Linked DNA regions of Homo sapiens. The protein of the gene in region 2 purifies or fractionates together with the protein of the main gene of each other region. This does not show direct contact. Each region holds a gene or a part of one and is shown on either strand. Other genes may lie near its edges. The genes, in order: PGD, USPL1 and KRT4.

Region 1 (3,657 bases), on a different chromosome or scaffold from region 2:
TTTGCTGAGTGAACACGTTAAGTATTATATATACCAATAAAAAATGAACACAAAAAGAATAGCACTGTTTCTGTGAAAGAAAACTAAGGTAATGTTTTAGAAAGAACAATTAACAGCAATCCAGTGAAACAAACAATAGTCAAAGTAAGTGAGGATGACATGAATAAAAAACTAGGAGGAAAACAACAAAAAATCTGGAAAGCTATACTGTATGCCTTGCTAGAGTCTGTAAATCACATCCCATTGGAAATAACTGAAACTAGAAATTCTAGATGGTAAGACACGACTAGAAAGCGCATCAGCAAACCATACTTAACGAGAAGGCCTTGGCCCTCCAAAAAATGGCGGGTGAATGAAAGTCCTTTCCTATGTTTTCAGTTAAAATCTATGTTTACCTCATGATAAAGATACATTCATCTAAAGTATTTAGGGAAAACAAAAGTATGGATACCTGCAGTTTACTTTGAATGTATCCAAAAAATAAGATGAAATTGGTGGGGGATGGACAGACATTGCTAAAGCAAGTACAGGAACCTGTGGATGGGAGAAAGGAGGAGGTGTGTATCCAGGTGTTCACTGTAAAACTCTCAAACTTCTGTGCTGCATGGTTGAATATTGTCATAATAAAATGTTGGGGGAAATGCTTCAGCTTCCCTACTTGGACTGACTTTTCAGATTAACTATCAAAAAGCCAATCCCAACTTGATCAGGAAAGAAAGCTTCTGCTGCATCTGCCATGTGGGACAACTGTGGGAGTAAATGGGACAGGTATGTGGAGTGACACAGTGCCTGACACCAGGTAAGCTACGCTAAATGGTGGTGATGATAACCACCCAGACTCTGTGGGGACTTTCTGCTTAGTGACTGACTAGCATAGTGTATAGGCCTATTACTAACAGTTTCCCTCAAATTAGGCTGAGTCCATGCAGGCCACCCGAATGGCCAAGGGGATAGGAATGAAGAAAAGATTCGGTGTCTGTGGCAAAGTGAGCACTCCCTGCAGAACGGACACAGAGGCAGTGCCGGGGCCTCACCTGGGCCATCTCGTCCTGCGCCATGCCCAGCACGTCTTTCATCAGGTGGTATGCCTCACAGATCAGCTGCATGTCCCCATACTCTATCCCGTTGTGCACCATCTTCACGAAGTGGCCTGCTCCCTCATCTCCCACCTGTCAGGACAACAAGCACCAAGAGGCCTTCAGAGAAACAGGCGACACATCAGAGAAGTCCACATCAGCTTTCATGCCAACATCCCTGGCAAGGCTACCTCTCCACACAAAAAATAACAAGTATAAAATGAGTACAGCATTTTTGATACAAGAATCATATAGCAATTCAAAGCAAGCTTCAGTCCAGTACAATATTATTTAACACTAATTCTAGACTCATTCTTCTCAAGGTTTCTCAAAGTCCCTGAATTCACTTTCAATACTTATGGCTCTCTAGCCTGTATTTTCTACTCTTTCTCATCATTCAAAGCAACTCCCCACCTTCCCAGCCCCCACCCACAAGAAAAAAAGTCCTCTTTTTCCCAAAGTTACCACTTTTCTAGCAACTAGAGGTTAAAATATATTGGCCAATTAAATCACTTGTTTTTTTTCAAAATATAAATGTATTGTAGTTGTTCCTAATGGCTACTGAAAAGTAAAATGACCCTAGATCCAAGGTCTCAACCTTGTAAGCCCAGAAAGGAGTCCCTCCAAGGCCCCATCATTATATTTATATTTATATTTATATTTATAAATAAAGACCAGATCTTTATTTATAAGCTGGCAAGATGTATAAAATCAGAATACCCGTTAATGAATGTAGGATGAAAACCTTAACTATGGATCTTCGTGGTTACAAATGTTAGTCCGGTCAACACATTCTGGCCCTATAGACAAGCAACTGGGAAGCCAGATTATCCGAAAATTATTTAGTTGTCAAGAACTGGAACAAAGGGAGTGACGAGAGCCAAACAGTTCATGGCATCAAACTCTCAGTCATCTACACCCAGCTCCATGACAGGGACACACCTGCCCAGGAGGCCAGGTGTTTGGATGACCTGGGCAGTCTCTCTCCTGGCTGTCACCACCTGGACCGTCAGTTGTATAACTGACGCTCACATCAGGACTCCATTGTCCGTGTTTCTTTTTTTTTTTTGAAACGGAGTCTCGCTCTGTCGCCCAGGCTGGAGTGCAGCGGTGTGATCTTGGCTCAGCACAACACCTGCCTCCTGGGTTCAAGCAATTCTAACGCCTCAGCCTCCTGATGAGCTGGGATTACAGGAGCACACCGCCACACTCAGCTAATTTTTGTAGACATGGAGTTTCACCATGTTGGCCAGGCTGGTCTCAAACTCCTGACCTCAGGTGATCCACTCACCTCAGCCTCTCACAGTGCTGGGATTCCAGGCATGAGCCACCACGCCTGGCCTTGTCCATGTTTCTATTGCTGCCCCTGCTGACTTCTGATTTTGACACTCTGGCCACAGAGTAACATGGCTGCTAACATCTTACTTCACCTTACCCTTCCTGCCACTTCAGCCATGAACTAAGGAGGGCCTGCTTGATCAACACACGTAGGGGCAAGGACTGTGCTTCTCTTCATGACTTTGTCCTAAGTGTGTGTATCTAAAAAAAAGTTGCAGGCTGGGTGCGGTGGCTCACGCCTATAATCCCAACACTTTGGGAGGCCAAGGTGGGCCGATTACTTGAAGTCAGGAGTTTAAGACCAGCTTGGGCAACATGGTGAAACCCCATCTCTACCAAAAATACAAAAATTAGCCAGGCATGGTGGCACATGCCTGTAATCCCAGCTACAATGGAGGCTGAGGCATGAGAATCGCTTGAACCCAGGAGGCGGAAGTTGCAGTGAGCTGAGATTATGCCACTGCACTCCAGCCTGGACGATAAAGCAAGACTGTCTCAAAAAAAAAAAAAAAAAAAAAAAAAAGTTGCTACCACTCACTTTTATTGCAGTGATCTTTTTGTTTTTTTCTGTTTAAGAGACAGGGTCTCTCTCTGTTACCCAGGCCAGAGTGCAGTAGTATGATCACTGCTCACTGCAGCCTTGAACTCGTGGGCTCAAGGGATCCTCCCAAAATACTGGATTATAAGCACGAGCCACTACACCCGGCCTTTTACCGCAGTAATCTACTGTCAGGGAACAGAGGTCCCTTTCCAATCCTTCACACTAATGAGAAGATTACTCAGCTCTTTACGTCAGTCCCAGCACCAGCCTCTTTCTACCCTAAGCAGATTCTGACTGAGCTCAATGGCCAACCACTGGTGAAAAGGTAAGGACAAGTGAGCTGCTGTGGCCAAAGCCACCAAGCACTGGCAGGCCTAGGAGGGAGGGCTTCCCGGATTCCTCAAAGGCCTGAGTCCTTATTTCAACCTCAGCATTGATTTCATATAAAATAAAATTGAATAATAAAATTCACATTAAAATTGCTGATATAAAATTAAAGGGAATCAGGAGCTGAAGAGAGCTTGGAGATCATGTAATCCAACCCCATATCTTACAGATAAGGAAACTGAAGTCCATGAAGGGACGTGGCTTGCCTGATGTCACAGTTAAGTTTATGGAAAGCCAGAACTGCCACTCAGGTCTCCTGAGCCTAATGCTTTTTTCCATCCACAGCATGGCTGAACTACAATATGAGATAAAGTT
Region 2 (3,657 bases):
GCCACTACACTCCAGCCTGGGCGACAGAGACTCCATCTCAAAAGAAAAAAAAAGAAAAGAAACAGAAACTAGAATGGTTGCCAGAAGCTGGGGGAGAGGAAAATGGGAAGTGGTTGTTTAATGGGTACAGAGTTTCAGTTTTGCAAGATGAAAAAAGTTCTAGAGATCTGCTGCACAAGTGAATATACCTAATACTCCTGAACTCTATACATAAAAATGGTTAAGTTGATGAATTTTTTTACAATTTAAAAATTAATACAAATTTTTTTAAGAGAAAAAAAAATCCTGAGACGAAAACCCTTTGTGAATCTCAAGTAGTCAAGATCATGGTATATGCATCCTACTTACACCTCTACTTTATTCAAAACATAATAAACCCTTGGTTCCAAAGGAATGCATATTAAAAAAAAAAAAAGAACAAAACAGTAATAAACCATAAGAGGCCCCGGGACTGCAAAACTTAGTGATTTCCACCCACACTCTTCGCAAGTGTCTTCACTGACTTTTCTCTATATAATCTGTGCTCCCACCATAGGCCAATCTGTAATATAATTTGTCCTTGCCCTGATTTTTCCCTTATAAATTAATGATTTCAGATTTTTATCTTTTTTCTTTTTATAAAATTTTGTTGCCTCTTTCCACATGTTCTAAATATTTGTATCTCTGTATACCTGACTTGTTTCTATTTACAGTGAACATGTATCATTTTTATAACTAGAATAAAGCTTTTAAGCTGTCTTCAAAAAAGTCATAAAAATATACACAAAGCATTAGTATTTTAGCCCAGCGCAACCATCTAGTATCATTTAAAATCCAATGCTGAAAAAAACCTAATCCTGTCTCTTTCACTGAGTTTTGGAGCAGCTTAAGTAAATTCCTGTACTTATTCTTGTGAAATAGGAAAAAGGAAAACATACCATGTCTTCTTATACTTGTATAAGTAATTATCAACAAGGTATGGCCAAAGACAAATTATAATAATAATGTACTCATTTTACAAATGGAGAAAACAAAAAAAGTTTTCTTTGATTACTCAACATTAATGATTTAAAATTTTTATTATAAATTTCATGGGTTTTTAAAAAAGACTAATTAAATGTTCCAAAGTAAACGCTGAATGATAGACTACTCCACGAAAAAAAAAAAGTTAAAACTTCCTACTGTTTAAAAACACTTGAGAGTTTCAATTTGGTATAATTTTGGACCAGTCTTGAATATTAGTGTTTACAAATCAAGGAACATTTTAATGTAAATACCTGACTAAAAGAGGTTTTCCAAATGGTTCTTTGCAATTTACAGCAGAGTAAACTCCAAATTTTATAACGGAACTCTTTGGAAATAATTTGATTCAGAGGACTTATACAGGGATCAGCAAAGTTTACTGATAAAGGGCTAGATAATAAATATTTAGATTTTATGAGCTACATAGTCTGTCACAACTACCCAACTCTGTTGTTGTATGCAAAAGAAGCCATGAACAATACATAAATGATTGAGCATGGCTATGTTCCGGTAAAACTTTATTTATGAACACTGAAATTTGAATTTCATTTAATTTTCACATATTATGAAAGGGTATTCTTCTTTTGATTTATTTATTTATTTATTTATTTATTTATTTATTTTGAGATAGAGTCTCCTCTGTCGCCCAGGCTGGAGTGCAGTGGCTCAAATCTTGGCTCACTGCAACTTCTGCCACTGGCTTCAAGCGACTCTCCTGCCTCAGCCTCCCAAGTAGCTGGGATTACAGGCATATGCCACCACACCCGGCTATTTTGTATTTTTAGTAGAGACAGGTTTTCACCATGTTGGCCAGGCTGGTCTCGAACTCCTGACCTCAAGAGAATCCACCCACCTTGGCCTCCCAAAGTGCTGGGATTACAGGTGTGAAACACTGCACCTGGCCCTTCTTTTGATTTTTTCTGGCATTTTTTATTTTGATATTTTCCTAACCATTTAAAAAACAAAAAAATCATTCCTTGTTTGTGCATCATACAAAATGTCTGCTCACTCCTGGTGTAAACCAATCTACTTCATAAAGTACACTGGGCTCTCATTGCTGACTAGAAATTAAAAAAATAATAATAAATTACTCATGTTCCTTTTTAACATTTCCAAAGTATATACTTAAAATTCTTGATTATATATTTTTTGCTTTATCACTTGAAAAAGAATGCTTCAAAAACCAAAACTCCGGGCTGGGCGTGGTGGCTCACACCTGTAACCCCAGCATTTTGGGAGGCCGAGGTGGGTGGATCACCTGAGGTCAGGAAATCAAGCCCATCCTGGCCATAGTGAAACCCCGTCTCTACTAAAAATACAAAAATTAGCTGGGCTGGGTGGCACATGCCTGTAATCTCACCTACTGAGGAGGCTGAGGCAGGAGAATCCCTTGAACCAGGGAGTCGGAGGTTGCGGTGAGCCGAGATCGCACCACTGCACTCCAGCCTCGTGACAGAGCGAGACTCCGTCTCAAAAAAAAAAAAAAAAAAAACAAAAAACAAAAAACCAACTAAAAATCTATGTAGTACATCTAACTTTAATAGCCAAAAACCTAACTCCTGGGGACAAGGACTTCTCTATTCTTACAGTCCTGATCTTCTCCCCAAAACCTTGCTCTTCCAAGTCTTCCCAGCTCAGTAATTCACGATTCCATTCTTCTAATTTTTCAAGCCAAAAATCTTGGAACTATCCTTGATTCCTCTTTCCAACCCCATATCCCAATCTTTCAGCAAATCCTGTTGGCTTTACCTTCAAAGTATAAATAAACTCCAACCATGCCTCAACACCTCTGCCACCACCCTCTCCCCCAGAATACTGCAACTGCCTTCAACTAGTCCAAAGGGAAAAAAGCTTTTTTTCCTTTCTACTTATCAATCTAAATAAAAAGAAAAGAGAAGCTTCTAAAAAGAAAGTGACATTTATTCAGGAATAAAGTATTCCAATGGGAATACACATGCCATAGTAAACTGTGTGTGTTCAGGGAGGTAAGGGAAGACAAAAGGTTTTTAAAGGAAAATAAGGAGGATCACATACTTGTTTTGAGATAATTACCCTTGGCTACAAGGATCAATAACAAGGATGACACCCGTCCACAGATGGACCAGGCAGTTGCTGGGCAGATGTCCTTGCAGAAGTATTTTCTGTGTATTTATTTCATGATGTATTTTCTGTGTATTTCAGAAGTATTTCATGATGGCCTTTGTGCAAGGGTGTGGTTTTTGCAGAGTCTTTTGAGATATTTTGGTATTTATGCATGAAAGCTCTCTCTTCATAGCCTTTCCTGGATCTATTTGTCTTTTTTTTTTCTTTTAATAGAGACAGGGTCTCACACTCTGTCATCCTGACTGGAATGCAGTGGCACAATCACAGCTCACTGCAGCCTGGACCTCCTGGGCATGGTGCCGTGCACCCGTAGTCCCCCTCCCGGGTAGCTGGGGCTACAGACTCACACCACCATGCCCAGCTAATTTAAATTTTTTTTTTTGTAGAGACAAGGCCACACTATGTTGCATGGGCTGGTCTCCAATTCCTGGGATCAAGCAATCCTCCTGCCTCAGCCTCCCAAAGTGTTGGGATTACAGTTGTCAGCCACTGTGCCTGGCCAGTCAGGATTTTTTTTTCTTTTTTAACACAAGTGACTCCATTTTGATTATG
Region 3 (2,691 bases), on a different chromosome or scaffold from region 2:
CTCAGTGAGAATTGCCACAGGTGGCAAGAATAGCACCAAATGTCAAGTAGTTTCAAATCAGACCAGGACCAACGATGCCTGGGAGAGTCTGTTCATATCTGACTTCTATTGGGCTTGAGCTAATGATCACCTGTTCACAGACATCAAAAGCAGAGCCCCAGAGCCAGCCCCATCTCCTGAGAGATCCATACCACCCACCTTGGTCTGGTACAGGGCTTCAGCCTCAGCCTTGCTCCTCTGGGCAATCTCCTCGTACTGGGCACGGACCTCGGCAATAATGCTGTCCAGGTCCAGGTTGCGGTTGTTGTCCATGGAAAGGACCACGGACGTGTCGCTGACATGGGTCTGCATCTGGGACAGCTCCTGCAGGGCAAATGTCTCACATCAGCCCCCCCAGGAAAGCCTTCACTGACCTGATACAGGCTCAAGTAGGAGCAGAGCTGGCATTCACAATGTGTAGGAAGGGGAGAGACAGGTAAAGTTCTAAGGAGAAATCAAGTGGTTGTGACAGTTCAGGATGGAAGAGCAATGCTTCTAGTCTTTACTGGTCCCCAGGAACCATAAGCCACTCTAATGCAGTGAGTGCCGGTGTGTTGGAATGGAAGGGAAGGGAATGGATCCATTTCACCAGAAAAAAAATGCTAGACAGCAATGAATTCTATTCCAAGCACTCTTTAGATCTAATCACCCCGTCTAAGACCAAGACCACATCTGGTTCTAAGAATCTCCCAGTTGAATTTCCCACTTCAAACCTTTCTATGCATGACCTTGATGAGAACCCACTGCCCTAAAATAAGGGAGCTGGAGTCCTTTCAAAAAACTGTGAATCCCAACCAGCAGCGTCACAGATGGGGGATTCCCTTTCCCTGGATGGAGGGGAGGATGGAGCCCTCACCGCATCATAGAGGACCTTCAGGAAGTTGATCTCGTCATTAAGACTGTCCACCTTGGCCTCCAACTCCACCTTGTTCAGGTAGGCAGCATCCACGTCCTGCAGAGGAGTAAGGAGGATAAGAGATGAGGAGCAGGAATGCCAGTAGGAGGACGGGTTACTAAGTGACACCGACAGGTGTTCTCAGCAGCATTTAGGAAAGACTACTCAGCAGCAGGGGAGCTGGTGGGAGACCAATTATTTTATATATTCTTCCCTAGAGCCACCTGAAGACATGGAAGTTGATTATCCAAATAGGCTATTCTAACAGTATGGAGATCTCTCAAAGAACTAAAAATAGAACTACCATTGGATCCAGCAATCCCAGTGCTGGAATTCCACTCAAAGGAAAAGAAATCATTGTAACAAAAGGATACCTGCACTCATGTTTATCGCAGCACAATTCACAATAGCAAAGATACCAAATCAACCTAAGTGTCCATCAACAGATGATTGGATAAAGAAAATATGATACATATACACAATAGAATACTACTCAGCCATAAAAAGAGAATGAAATTATGTCTTTTTGCAGCAATGTGGATGGAACTGGAGGCCATTATCTTAAGTGAAACAACTCAGGCACAGAAAGACAAATAACACATGTCCTCACTTATAAGTGGGAGCTAAATCATGTGTACATGTGGACATAGAGCATGGAATGATAGACAATGGAGACTTGAAAAAGGGAGGGCTGGGAGGGGCTGGATAATGAGAAATTACTTATTGGATATAATGTATGTTATCCCAGCAATGGATACTCTAAAAGCCCTGACTTCACCACAACACAAACTATCCACGTAACAAAATTACACTTGTACCCCATGAATTTATAAAAATAAAAATCAGCTGGGTGCGGTGGCTCACAACTGTAACCCCAGCACTTTGGGAGGCTGAGGCAGGCGGATGACCTGAGGTCAGGAGTTTGAGACCAGCCTGACCAACATGGAAAAACCCTGTCTCTACTAAAAATACAAAATTAGCCAGGCGTGGTGGTGCATGCCTGTAATCCCAGCTACTCGGGAGGCTGAGGCAGGAGAATCGCTTGAACCCAGTAGGTGGAGCTTGCAGTGACCCAAGATCGCGCCATTGCACTGCAGCCTGGGCAAAAAGAGTGAAGCTCCATCTCAAAAAAAAAAGCAAATAGGCTTTCCTCCCAACCTTAATTTCTTAGAACCTGGTTTGGTTACCCACTTTCCTTGACTATATAGATCTAGATAGTTCCAAGTGAAGCAGGGATGAGGCAGAGATGGACCAAACCCATGACTTCAGCCAAAGACCACTCCCCAAGGGAAGGGGCACCCTGAAGGCACTCCCTACCATCCTTCGTCTCTTACCTTCTTTAGGACCACAAAGTCATTCTCGGCTGCTGTGCGTTTGTTGATCTCCTCTTCATACCTGGGGGTGGGCACGGGGAGAAAAAGACAAAAACCCACAGTGAGCTGGTGTTTCTCAGATCTCTGCTGCTTGTTTTCAAGCATTTCCAAACAAATTTGGAAATATCCACGTAATTAGTTGCATTTCCCATATTCATACAGATATTCATTTAACCTATATTCATTGAATATAGGAAGTACCCGTTTAGGCCAGGGTTTATTCAGATACATGAAAACCAAACTTTAAAGAGACTGTTTTCGATAGAAAACCCAGCAATGATGTAGTTGATTTAATGTCCCTGAAAGGGCTGTCCTTTTGGCCATTTTGGCAGATTAAATTCTCAGCAATGTCATCAGCACACTCCATTTCCCTTTGTTTGGTGG

The links.
Region 1: the proteins of USPL1 (region 2) and PGD purify together in Homo sapiens (affinity purification with mass spectrometry; one large-scale study listed by BioGRID and IntAct). This does not show direct contact.
Region 3: the proteins of USPL1 (region 2) and KRT4 purify together in Homo sapiens (affinity purification with mass spectrometry; one large-scale study listed by BioGRID and IntAct). This does not show direct contact.

The regions. Positions count from the first base shown.
Region 1 is NC_000001.11:10,408,930-10,412,586, reverse strand, and holds part of PGD (6-phosphogluconate dehydrogenase, decarboxylating), read right to left. Parts: intron 1,170-3,657; coding exon 1,035-1,169; intron 1-1,034. UniProt on the Homo sapiens protein: Catalyzes the oxidative decarboxylation of 6-phosphogluconate to ribulose 5-phosphate and CO(2), with concomitant reduction of NADP to NADPH.
Region 2 is NC_000013.11:30,624,282-30,627,938, reverse strand, and holds part of USPL1 (SUMO-specific isopeptidase USPL1), read right to left. Parts: intron 1-3,657. UniProt on the Homo sapiens protein: SUMO-specific isopeptidase involved in protein desumoylation. Specifically binds SUMO proteins with a higher affinity for SUMO2 and SUMO3 which it cleaves more efficiently. Also able to process full-length SUMO proteins to their mature forms.
Region 3 is NC_000012.12:52,808,488-52,811,178, forward strand, and holds part of KRT4 (keratin, type II cytoskeletal 4), read right to left. Parts: intron 2,330-2,691; coding exon 2,269-2,329; intron 992-2,268; coding exon 896-991; intron 364-895; coding exon 199-363; intron 1-198.